Linked DNA regions of Homo sapiens. The protein of the gene in region 3 purifies or fractionates together with the protein of the main gene of each other region. This does not show direct contact. Each region holds a gene or a part of one and is shown on either strand. Other genes may lie near its edges. The genes, in order: ETFB, PGD and IVD.

What was found.
Region 1: the proteins of IVD (region 3) and ETFB purify together in Homo sapiens (affinity purification with western blotting; one study listed by BioGRID and IntAct). This does not show direct contact.
Region 2: the proteins of IVD (region 3) and PGD fractionate together in Homo sapiens (co-fractionation; one large-scale study listed by BioGRID). This does not show direct contact.

The regions. Positions count from the first base shown.
Region 1 is NC_000019.10:51,349,294-51,352,948, forward strand, and holds part of ETFB (electron transfer flavoprotein subunit beta), read right to left. Parts: intron 1,099-3,655; coding exon 1,036-1,098; intron 1-1,035. UniProt on the Homo sapiens protein: Heterodimeric electron transfer flavoprotein that accepts electrons from several mitochondrial dehydrogenases, including acyl-CoA dehydrogenases, glutaryl-CoA and sarcosine dehydrogenase.
Region 2 is NC_000001.11:10,416,024-10,418,652, reverse strand, and holds part of PGD (6-phosphogluconate dehydrogenase, decarboxylating), read right to left. Parts: intron 1,667-2,629; coding exon 1,536-1,666; intron 1,278-1,535; coding exon 1,144-1,277; intron 1-1,143. UniProt on the Homo sapiens protein: Catalyzes the oxidative decarboxylation of 6-phosphogluconate to ribulose 5-phosphate and CO(2), with concomitant reduction of NADP to NADPH.
Region 3 is NC_000015.10:40,415,760-40,418,921, forward strand, and holds part of IVD (isovaleryl-CoA dehydrogenase, mitochondrial isoform 1 precursor), read left to right. Parts: intron 1-318; coding exon 319-423; intron 424-530; coding exon 531-603; intron 604-2,370; coding exon 2,371-2,504; 3' UTR 2,505-3,162.

The DNA.
Region 1 (3,655 bases), on a different chromosome or scaffold from region 3:
GTAGAGCATATGTATCTTAATATTTTTATGTTGATTACATGTTAAAATAATATTTTAGATATAATGGGGTGAAATAAAATATAATTTTGTCTGTTTCTTTTTACTTTTTTATGTAGCTGTGAAAAATTTTAAATTTGTCTATGTGCCTTGCTTCTTTTTTTTTTTTTCTTTTGAGACAGGGTTTCCCTCTTTCACCTAGGCTGGAGTACAGTGGTATGATCACAGCTCACTGCAGTCTTGACCTCCTGAACTCAAGGGATCCTCCCACCTCAGCCTCCTGAGGCTGGTACTACAGGCATGTGCCATCACACCCAGCTAACTTTTCTTTTTTGGTAGAGATGGGGTCTAACTATGTTGCCAAGGCTGGTCTCGAACTCCTGGGCTCAAGTAATCCTCCCACCGTGGCCTCCCAAAGTGCTAGGACTACAGGTGTGAGCCACTGTGCCAAGCCTGCATTTCTTTTTTCTTTTTTTGAGACGGAGCCTCCCTCTGTTGCCAGGCTGGAGTGCAGTGGCGTGCGATCTTGCCTCACTGTAACCTCCGCCTCCCAAGTTCAAGCAATTCTCCCTCAGCCCCCTGAGTAGCTGAGACTACAGGCGCACGCCACCACACCCAGCTAATTTTTAAATTTTTAGTGGAGACGAGGTTTCAACATGTTGACCAGGCTGGTCTCAAACTCCTCCTGACCTCAAGTAATCCACCTGCCTCGGCCTCCCAAAGTGCTGGGATTACAGGCATGACTCACCATGCCTGGCCCCAGCCTGCATTTCTATTGGACTGGCAGAGATGGGGACTGGGGAACCTAGAGTTGAGCGGGTGGGCATGAGTATTTCACGTAGGATGGCAAGGAAGGCCCCTTTGAAGAGGTGATACCTCAGCAGAGACCTCAAGGAGGGGAACAAGAAAGCCATGAGGCAATCCGAGGGAACAGTGTTCCAGGAGGAGAGAACAGCAAATGCAAAGGCCTTGAGGCAGAAATGAAGTTTGAGGGATGAGGGCCTGGCCCTCAGCAGGTGCTCCCCACTCCAGTCTCACCTGTGGCCAGTCAAGAAATCCAGCTGTCATCTGCCCTGTCTGGTTACAGTCATCATCGATGGCCTGAATGGGGAGAGACAGAAGACTGTATGACAATCAGTGGAGCTCATGGACCATTCAGGCCTCTGTCTAGAACAGGGGTTGGCAAACTTTTTCTTTCTTTTTTTTCTTTTTGAGACGGAGTCTTGCTCTGTCACCCAGGCTGGAGTGCAATGGTACAATCTTGGCTCACTGCAACCTCCGCCTCTTGGGTTCAAGCAATTCTCCTGCCTCAGCCTCCTGAGTAGCTGGGATTACAGGCACCCAACACCACGCCCAGCTAATTTTTGTATTTTCAGTAGAGACAGGGTTTCAACATGTTGGCCAGGCTGGTCTTGAACTGCTGACCTCAGATGATCCCCCAAAGCTCTGGGATTACAGGCATGAGTCACCGCAGCCAGTCGGGTTGGCAAACCTTTTCTATGGTGGAACAGATGTAGTAAATATCTCAGGCTCTGCAGGTCATACGGTCTCTGTCACGGTGACTCAGCGCTGCTGTTGTAGCACACAGGCAGCCATAAATAATATGTAAATGAATGTATGTGGTGATGTTCCAATAAAGCTTTATTTACAAATCAGAGGTCGCTCTGGGCCATAGTTCACTGACTTTTGGTCTAGAACGATCCCCTCACTTGGGCCCAGAGATAAGCAGCCACTTGTCCAGGGACATGTGGGGCCACCTGGCATCCCTGTCGTCAAGTCTCTGCCCTCTGTATAAAGCCTCTCAGGAGTCCCACCCTATGTGGCCCCTGGGCAGCTGCATGAACAGGGTCTGGGCCAGCAAGGACATTCTAGCCCCAGCCCAGTGATTGGTTCAGGGAGGGGCACATGACTCAAGCTGCACCAAAGAAGAGTCAGCCCTGGGAGTTTGCTGGGGCCCTTGGGAAAGATGCTCCTTTCTTTCTGCTGGGGTCACTGGGCTGGTGGGATCTGAGCCTGGAGATGCAGACAGTGAAGACAAGGTAGAGGGGAGCCTACAGCTCATATGTGACCCTGGATCAAGCTGTGCCTGAAGCCCCTGATTTACGTGAGATAATAAATTCGCTTTCTGGCTTAAGCCAGTTTGAGTTGTGAATCTGCTTCCTAGAACAAACAGCATCCTGACCAGTTCATCCGGCATTTCCCCAGCTGGAGGCCCTGGCCCCAGGAACTGTCCCTGGCCCAGGACAGGTAGGACATCGGAGTCTGAGAACGACCAGCAAATGCAGGGGGCTGCAAAGGCCATGCTTCCAGCACCTCGGCCTCTGCAGCCCCACCCAGGCCCTGCCTTTTTGGCCTGTTCTCCGGGTAGGCCCTTCGGCCACAGTTGACTGATCTGTACTCTGATGCCCCTGCTGTTGATAATCTCTCTCTGTTTTCTTCTGACTTTCTCAGGGCTGGGCAGGACACCCAGTGACCTACCTGGACCCATCAGCCTCCTCTTTGTCCCAGAACTGACCTGGCCCTGGGATCCCCATCTCTCTCCGGGGGCCCCAGCTCTACCTGAGCCTGCTGTGCTCTGCTGTCTCCGTGCTCTGCTTGACATACCTTGCAGTCTTTGGCCTTCCTTCTCAGCCTCATCCCTAATTCCCTGCCTCTTCTCACTCCCATCTGCCTGTGGCTCTTCTGACGTCCCTCTTCTGCCCCTTCCCTGGTTGAGGCCATGAGGTTTGCCCTCAAATGAGATGAGCTACCCCTGAGCAGAGGTGGTGCCCGAGGGTCTCCTGGGGGAACAGATGAGCTCCATGTACCCCTATCTCAGTGGGGAGCACCAGTGTGGCAGGGAAGGTTCTGGTCGGGTCCTCACCCAGCCCTAACCTCCTTCCCTAACTCCTGGCCTCCAATTTCCCATTCCAGTCCATTCTCAAAGCCCAGGGGGGCTCTTTCTGCACCTAGTGCTGATCCCACCCCTCTTCTGCTCATAGAACTCCCATAGCTCCCCAGTGCCCTCCAAAATTCTCAAGTCTTTGTTTCAAGCCCAGGCCTGTCTCCTGAACCTGCATCGATGTCTCCTGGGCTCTTCACACTCCCCTTGTAGGATCCTCCTCTAACCTCCTGTTCTTCCTGGGTTTCCTACCTGTGTTACCAAGGCAGACCCAGGCACTGTCCTTGCCTCCTCCCTGCCCTCCCTCCCCATGCTAAGCCCAGTCTCTCCTGCCACATCATGTCTCTGCTCTGTCCTGTCACCTTTGGCTGAGGCCTCATTCTCCCCCATGTGACCATCACCTCGGCCTCCCAGCCTCTAAACTCACCCAAAAGGATCTTTCTTCTTTTTTTCTTTTTGAGACAGAGTCTCGCTCTGCTCCCAGGCAGGAGTGCAGTGGTGCCTGGAGTGCAGTGGTGCGATCTTGTATCACTGCAACCTCCGCCTCCCAGGTTCCAGTGATTCTCATGCCTCAGCCTCCCAAGTAGCTGGGATTACAGGCAGGTGATACCACACCCGGCTAATTTTTATATTTTTAGAAGAGATGGGGTTTCACCATGTTGGCCACGCTAATCTCAAACTCTCGACCTCAAGTGATCCACTGGCCTCGGCCTCCCAAAGTGCTGAGATTACAGGCGTAAACCACCGTGCCTGGCCCAAGAGGATCTTTCTAACACC
Region 2 (2,629 bases), on a different chromosome or scaffold from region 3:
CAGGCACGCACCACTACAACCGGCTAATTTTTGTATTTTTAGTAGAGACAGGGTTTCACCGTGTTAGCCAGGATGGTCTGGATCTCCTGACCTCGTGATCCGCCTGCCTCGGCCTCCCAAAACGCTGGGATTACAGGTGTGAGCCACCGCGCCCGGCCAAATGCAATGAATCTTAACTCTAACAGGGAAGTAAGCTGGAAGCCGATGTATACCCTAGTGAAACAAAGTTACATTTCTCATTTCTTCAAGCTGTTAACCCTTTTCCTGTTTAGAAAAAAAGTGCAGCTCGCTGCCAGCGCTCATTTAATTTTACATAAACACGCTTTTTGAGGCTGAAGAAAATCTGACGATTTTCAATATGAAAATAAAATATAAAAACTATTCTTGGCGTTATTTCTAAAGAGAACTAATATTAGAATCATCTGAATCACCAGAATCATCTACTTCAGAAAAATCAGATTCATCAAATGAATCTTCAGCCAACATGAGAACGATGTAACGTCATGTGTAGAAATGCTACGTTTTCTATGATTTGGCATTTTCAATGAAAATACAGAGCAAAATTCCCAAGAGGCAAGGCCAGAGGGCACGATAGTTCACAGAAGTACTTTAAAAGGTGTAGTGTAGTAGGTGTAATGCGGAGCCGGGCGCAGTGGCTCACGCCTGTAATCCCAGCACTTTGGGAGGCTGAGGCGGGCAGATCACCCAAGGCAAGGAGTTCGAGACCAGCCTGGCTAACATGGTGAAACCCTGTTTCCACTACAAATACAAAAGAATTAGCCGGACATGGTGGCGTGCCCTTGTAATCCCAGTTACTTAGGACGCTGAGGCAGGAGAATCACTTGAACCCGGGAGGCAGAGGTTGCAGTGAGTCAAGATCGCATCATGGCACTCCAGTTTGGGCAATAAGAGCGAAACTTGGTCTCAAAAGAAAAAAAAAGGTGTAGTGTGGACAATCTAGTTACAGCAACTGAGGTACAGTGAAGAAGGGAACCACATAATCTAAGCCTATCTTGTGCCAGTGTCCAGTGATGGGGCTAAGTGCCCATCCCTGGAAACTGCTCAAGCTAAGTGTCCTAAGATCGCACTTCTGCACAGCCGTGTGAGTCCTTCCCGTCGGACCCTGGGCTGCCTCTCACTTACCTTCTAATGATGCAGCCCCCTCTCCACATCAGGGCGATGCCACCATAATTGAGAGTCCAGCCAAACTCGGTGGCTGCCTGCCTTAGCAGCATAAAGCCTTGAGCGTAAGAGATGATCTTGGAAGCGTAGAGTGCCTAAAGAGTGACACAGAGACCTACTAGGATTGCCATTAGGAGAGTGACCGCCTTATGTCTACCAGTCTTATTCTCATCAGCAGTGGAGATCCCAGAAGGGCCAATATTCTAGGAAAACATTGTAAGTCAAGATCCAAGTCAAGGCTGAACTTCATTCCACCTGCCATCCTGTGGCCTCGAGTGTTCTCCCACCACAACCCCCACCCCCACTGCCTTCCGCAGGACCAACAAAGACCACTGCCAGGGACTGTGTCCCACCTTCCGAATGTCCTCCAGGAATGATTTCTTATCACCATCAAACTGGAACTTCTGGGGACCCTTCAGCTTTTTGCTAGCTTGAATTCTCTCATCCTTCAGAGATGATAAGCACCGAGCAAAGACAGCTTCTCCTACATGGGGAGATCGGGAAGAGGAAACAGATTACTGTCAGGCCTCTGAGCCCAAGCTAAACTATCATATCCCCTGTGACCTGCATGTATACATCCAGATGGCCTGAAGCAAGTGAAGAATCACAAAAGAAGTGAAAATGGCTGGTTCCTGCCTTTACTGATGACATTCCACCATTGTGATTTGTTCCTGCCCCACCTTAACTGAGCGATTAACCTTGTGACATTCCTTCTCCTGGCTCAGAACCTCCCCAACTGAGCACCTTGTGACCCCTCGGCCCTGCCCGTAAGAGAAAAACCCCCTTTGACTGTAATTTTCCACTACCTGCCCAAATCCTATAAAATGGCCCCACCCCTATCTCCCTTCGCTGACTCTTCGGACTCAACCTGCCTGCACCCAGGTGATTAAAAAGCTTTATTGCTCACACAAAGCCTGTTTGGTGGTCTTTTCACACGGATGCGCATGAAAATTACCAAAGTTCGCACAGCAACCAGAAGAAAGGTGGAGCAGGAAAGTCTGTTTATACAAAGAGCTGAAAGTTTCAACCTTAGGCCACAAAAGTTGACATGGATCGGAAGGAACTTTTATAAGAAGCTCTAAACAGTTAATTTGATAACTAAAACTCTTAAGACAATCTTCCAATACAAACATGAGTATTCAATCACAAAGATTAACATGAAATTCAAAAGGGAGTTTTGAGGGAAAATGAAGAGATAGAAACCACTGTTATGGCTGGGCAAGGTGGCTAACACCTGTAATCCCAGCACTTTGGCAGGCTGAGGTGGGAGGATCACTTGAGCCCAGGAGTTCAAGGCTACAGTGAGCCATGATCACACCACTGCTCTCCAGCCTGGGCAACACAGTGAGACCCTGTCTCTAAAACCAGTAAAATAAAATAAAAACCACTGTTATGTAGAATACTCAGTGTTGGTCCATGAGTAAAATTTCAAATTCAATTTAGAGGA
Region 3 (3,162 bases):
GGTTGCTATTTGTAGTTAGACCTTCTGGTCCGAAGAAGCTGCTGGAAGGTAATAAGCATTGGAGTAAATGGTGCCTTGGGAGCCATGCCTTTCGGAGGCAGTGATGGCCACTTCGGGGTGTCATGCGGGCTGTGGAACAGCCACTCTGTGGCCCTAACTCCCACACCTGCCCCCATCTCCATCATCCTGAGTAAATCCCATCTCCTCTCCATGCCCCTGCTTCCTCATCCTTGGCTGTCTTGTTGCCATTGCTGACCTGCTTTTGGTAACTGAGAGAGTGTTCCAGCATGTTGACCTGTGACATCCCTTTGTGCCCAGTTGATGCAGGGGAAGATGGCTGACATGTACACCCGCCTCATGGCGTGTCGGCAGTATGTCTACAATGTCGCCAAGGCCTGCGATGAGGGCCATTGCACTGCTAAGGTGAGGGCCAGCCTCAGTCGGGGAGAGGCGGGGGCAGTGGACCAGCTGCTGAGACTTGCTGTCTGCGTGCCTCGCAGGGCCCTGCTGACCCCAGCTTCCTCCCGTAGGACTGTGCAGGTGTGATTCTTTACTCAGCTGAGTGTGCCACACAGGTAGCCCTGGACGGCATTCAGTGTTTTGGTGAGTGATCCCCACTTCCCAGTCCCGGGGCTCCCTCACTCCTGGGGCCTGTGGCTGCTTCAGAAAGCAGTTTCAGGGCGGGCGTGGTGGCTCACACCTATAATCCCAGCACTTTGGGAGGCCGAGGTAGGCAGATCACCTGAGGTCAGGAGTTCAAGACCAGCCTGGCCAACATGGTGAAACCGCATGCCGGGCATGATGGTGCATGCCTGTAATCCCAGCTACTTGGGAGGCTGAGGCAGGAGAATCGCTTGAACCCGGGAGGCAGAGGTTGCAGTGAACAAAGATTGCACCATTGCACTCCAGCCTAGGTGACAGAGCGAGAGGCTGTCTCAAAAAAAAGCAATTTCCTCTCCACTTCTCCACTCCTCACTATGTGCTTATGCTAGGCCCAGCTGAGCTGGGACCTTCGGGCTCTTTCTGTCCCAGTTACAAGGAGGAAATGGAAAGCAAATGAGAAAACTGCTAGATGCCAGGAGTTGCTGCTGCCTTCGGCAACACCCCCCTCTCATCCTCCCCGCCTCATAGATGCTAGGAAATGGGAAAGGGAGATGTGGCTGGGCACAGTGGCTCACACCTGTAATTCCAACACTTTAGGAGACTGAGGCCAGTGAATCACCTGAGATCAGGAGTTTGAGACCAGCCTGGCCAACATGGTGAAACCCTGTTTCTACTAAAAATACAAAAAAAAATTAGCCAAGTGTGGTGGCAGGAGCCTGTAATCCCAGCTATTTGGAAGGCTGAGGCTGGAGAATCTCTTGAACCCAGGAGGCGGAGGTTGCAGTGACCGGAGATCGCGCCATTGCACTCCAGCCTGAGTGACAAGAGTGAAACTCCGTCTCGGAAAAAAAAAAAAAAAAAAAGGCCGGGCACGGTGGCTCACACCTGTAATCCCAGCACTTTGGGAGGCCGAGGCAGGTGGATCACCTGAGGTCAGGAGTTCGAGACCAGCCTGACCAACGTGGTGAAACCCCATCTCTACTAAAAATACAAAAATTAGCTGGGTGCAGTGGTGCGCGCCTGTAATCCCAGCTACTCAGGAGGCTGAGGCAGGAGAATCACTTGAACCTTGGATGCGGAGGTTGCAGAGAGCCAATATCATGCCACTGCACTCCAGCCTAGGCCACAGAGCATGACTCCAAAAAAAAAAAAAAAAAAGCTAAATGGAAATTTCTAGAAATAGTTCATAAGTTTCAAATCCACACCATCCTGAATAGCTTGAAGTGTTGTGCCATGCTGCTCTGTCATGTTTGGTACGTGAATCGTCCCTTTGTGCAGCCTATCTATGCTATGTGGGCTACCTGCCCGTTAGTAGTCACCTAGGGTATCCAATCAGCTGTCCTGATATCAGAGTGCCTGTGTTCAAGTAACTCTTATTTTGCTCAGTGGCCCCAGATTGCAAGAGTAGTGATGCTGGCATGTCATAATAGTTCTATTTTAGTATTTGTTATTATTGTTGATCTGTTACTATGCCTAGCTCATAAATTAAACTTTCTCATAAGTATGTATGTATAGGGAAAAAAACAACATATATATGGGGTTCGGTACTATCTACGGTTTCAGGCATCCACTGGGGTCTTGGAATGTATCCTCCAAGGATAAGGAAGGACTAGTGTATTCCCCACACCCCTCCCTCTTGCTACCTTTTGCTGCTTTTCTTTAATCACCCTCTCCTCCTGTGGCCTGTTTCTATATACTTGGCATTCTGTTTGCTTTCTTTGTTTTGTCAATCACTTCCTTTCTTCTCTGCCCAAACCCTGGTTGCAGGTGGCAATGGCTACATCAATGACTTTCCCATGGGCCGCTTTCTTCGAGATGCCAAGCTGTATGAGATAGGGGCTGGGACCAGCGAGGTGAGGCGGCTGGTCATCGGCAGAGCCTTCAATGCAGACTTTCACTAGTCCTGAGACCCTTCGCCCCCTTTTCCTGCACCTAGTGGCCTTTCTTGGGAAGTAGAGATGTGGCGGCTTTCCCACCCTGCCCACAGCAGGCCCTCCTGCCCAGCTGCTCTTGTCAGCCCTCTGGCCTCTGGATGAGGTTGAGTTCTCCACAACAGCTCCCAAGCATCATGGGCCTCGCAGCCGGGCCTGTGCCACGGCTAGTGTTGTGTGATTTAAAATGGACTCAGCAGGAAGCATATTGTCTGGGGATTGTTGGGACAGGTTTTGGTGACTCTGTGCCCTTGCTCTCTAACTTCTGAGCCCACCTCCCAGGGTAGGCACCTGGGGGCATGCAGGTGCCCACCTCCCAGGGTAGGCACCTGGGGGCATGCAGGTACCCACCTCTTTCTCTTGGGTGAGGCTCTGGCAAGGAGATCTCTCTGCTCAAGCACAGCAGAATCATGGCCCCTCTCCATGAATTGGAACTTGGTACAGGTTAAGTATCCCTAATCCTGAAATCTGAAACACTTGTGGTTCCAAGCATTTTGGATAAGGCAAATTCAACTTTCAGTCTCTTTTCTGGGGGAAAAAAATAATAAACCTAGCCTAGCCAGGCGTGGTGGCTCATGCTTGTAATCCCAGCACTTCAGGAGGCTGAGATGGGTGGATCACCTGAGGT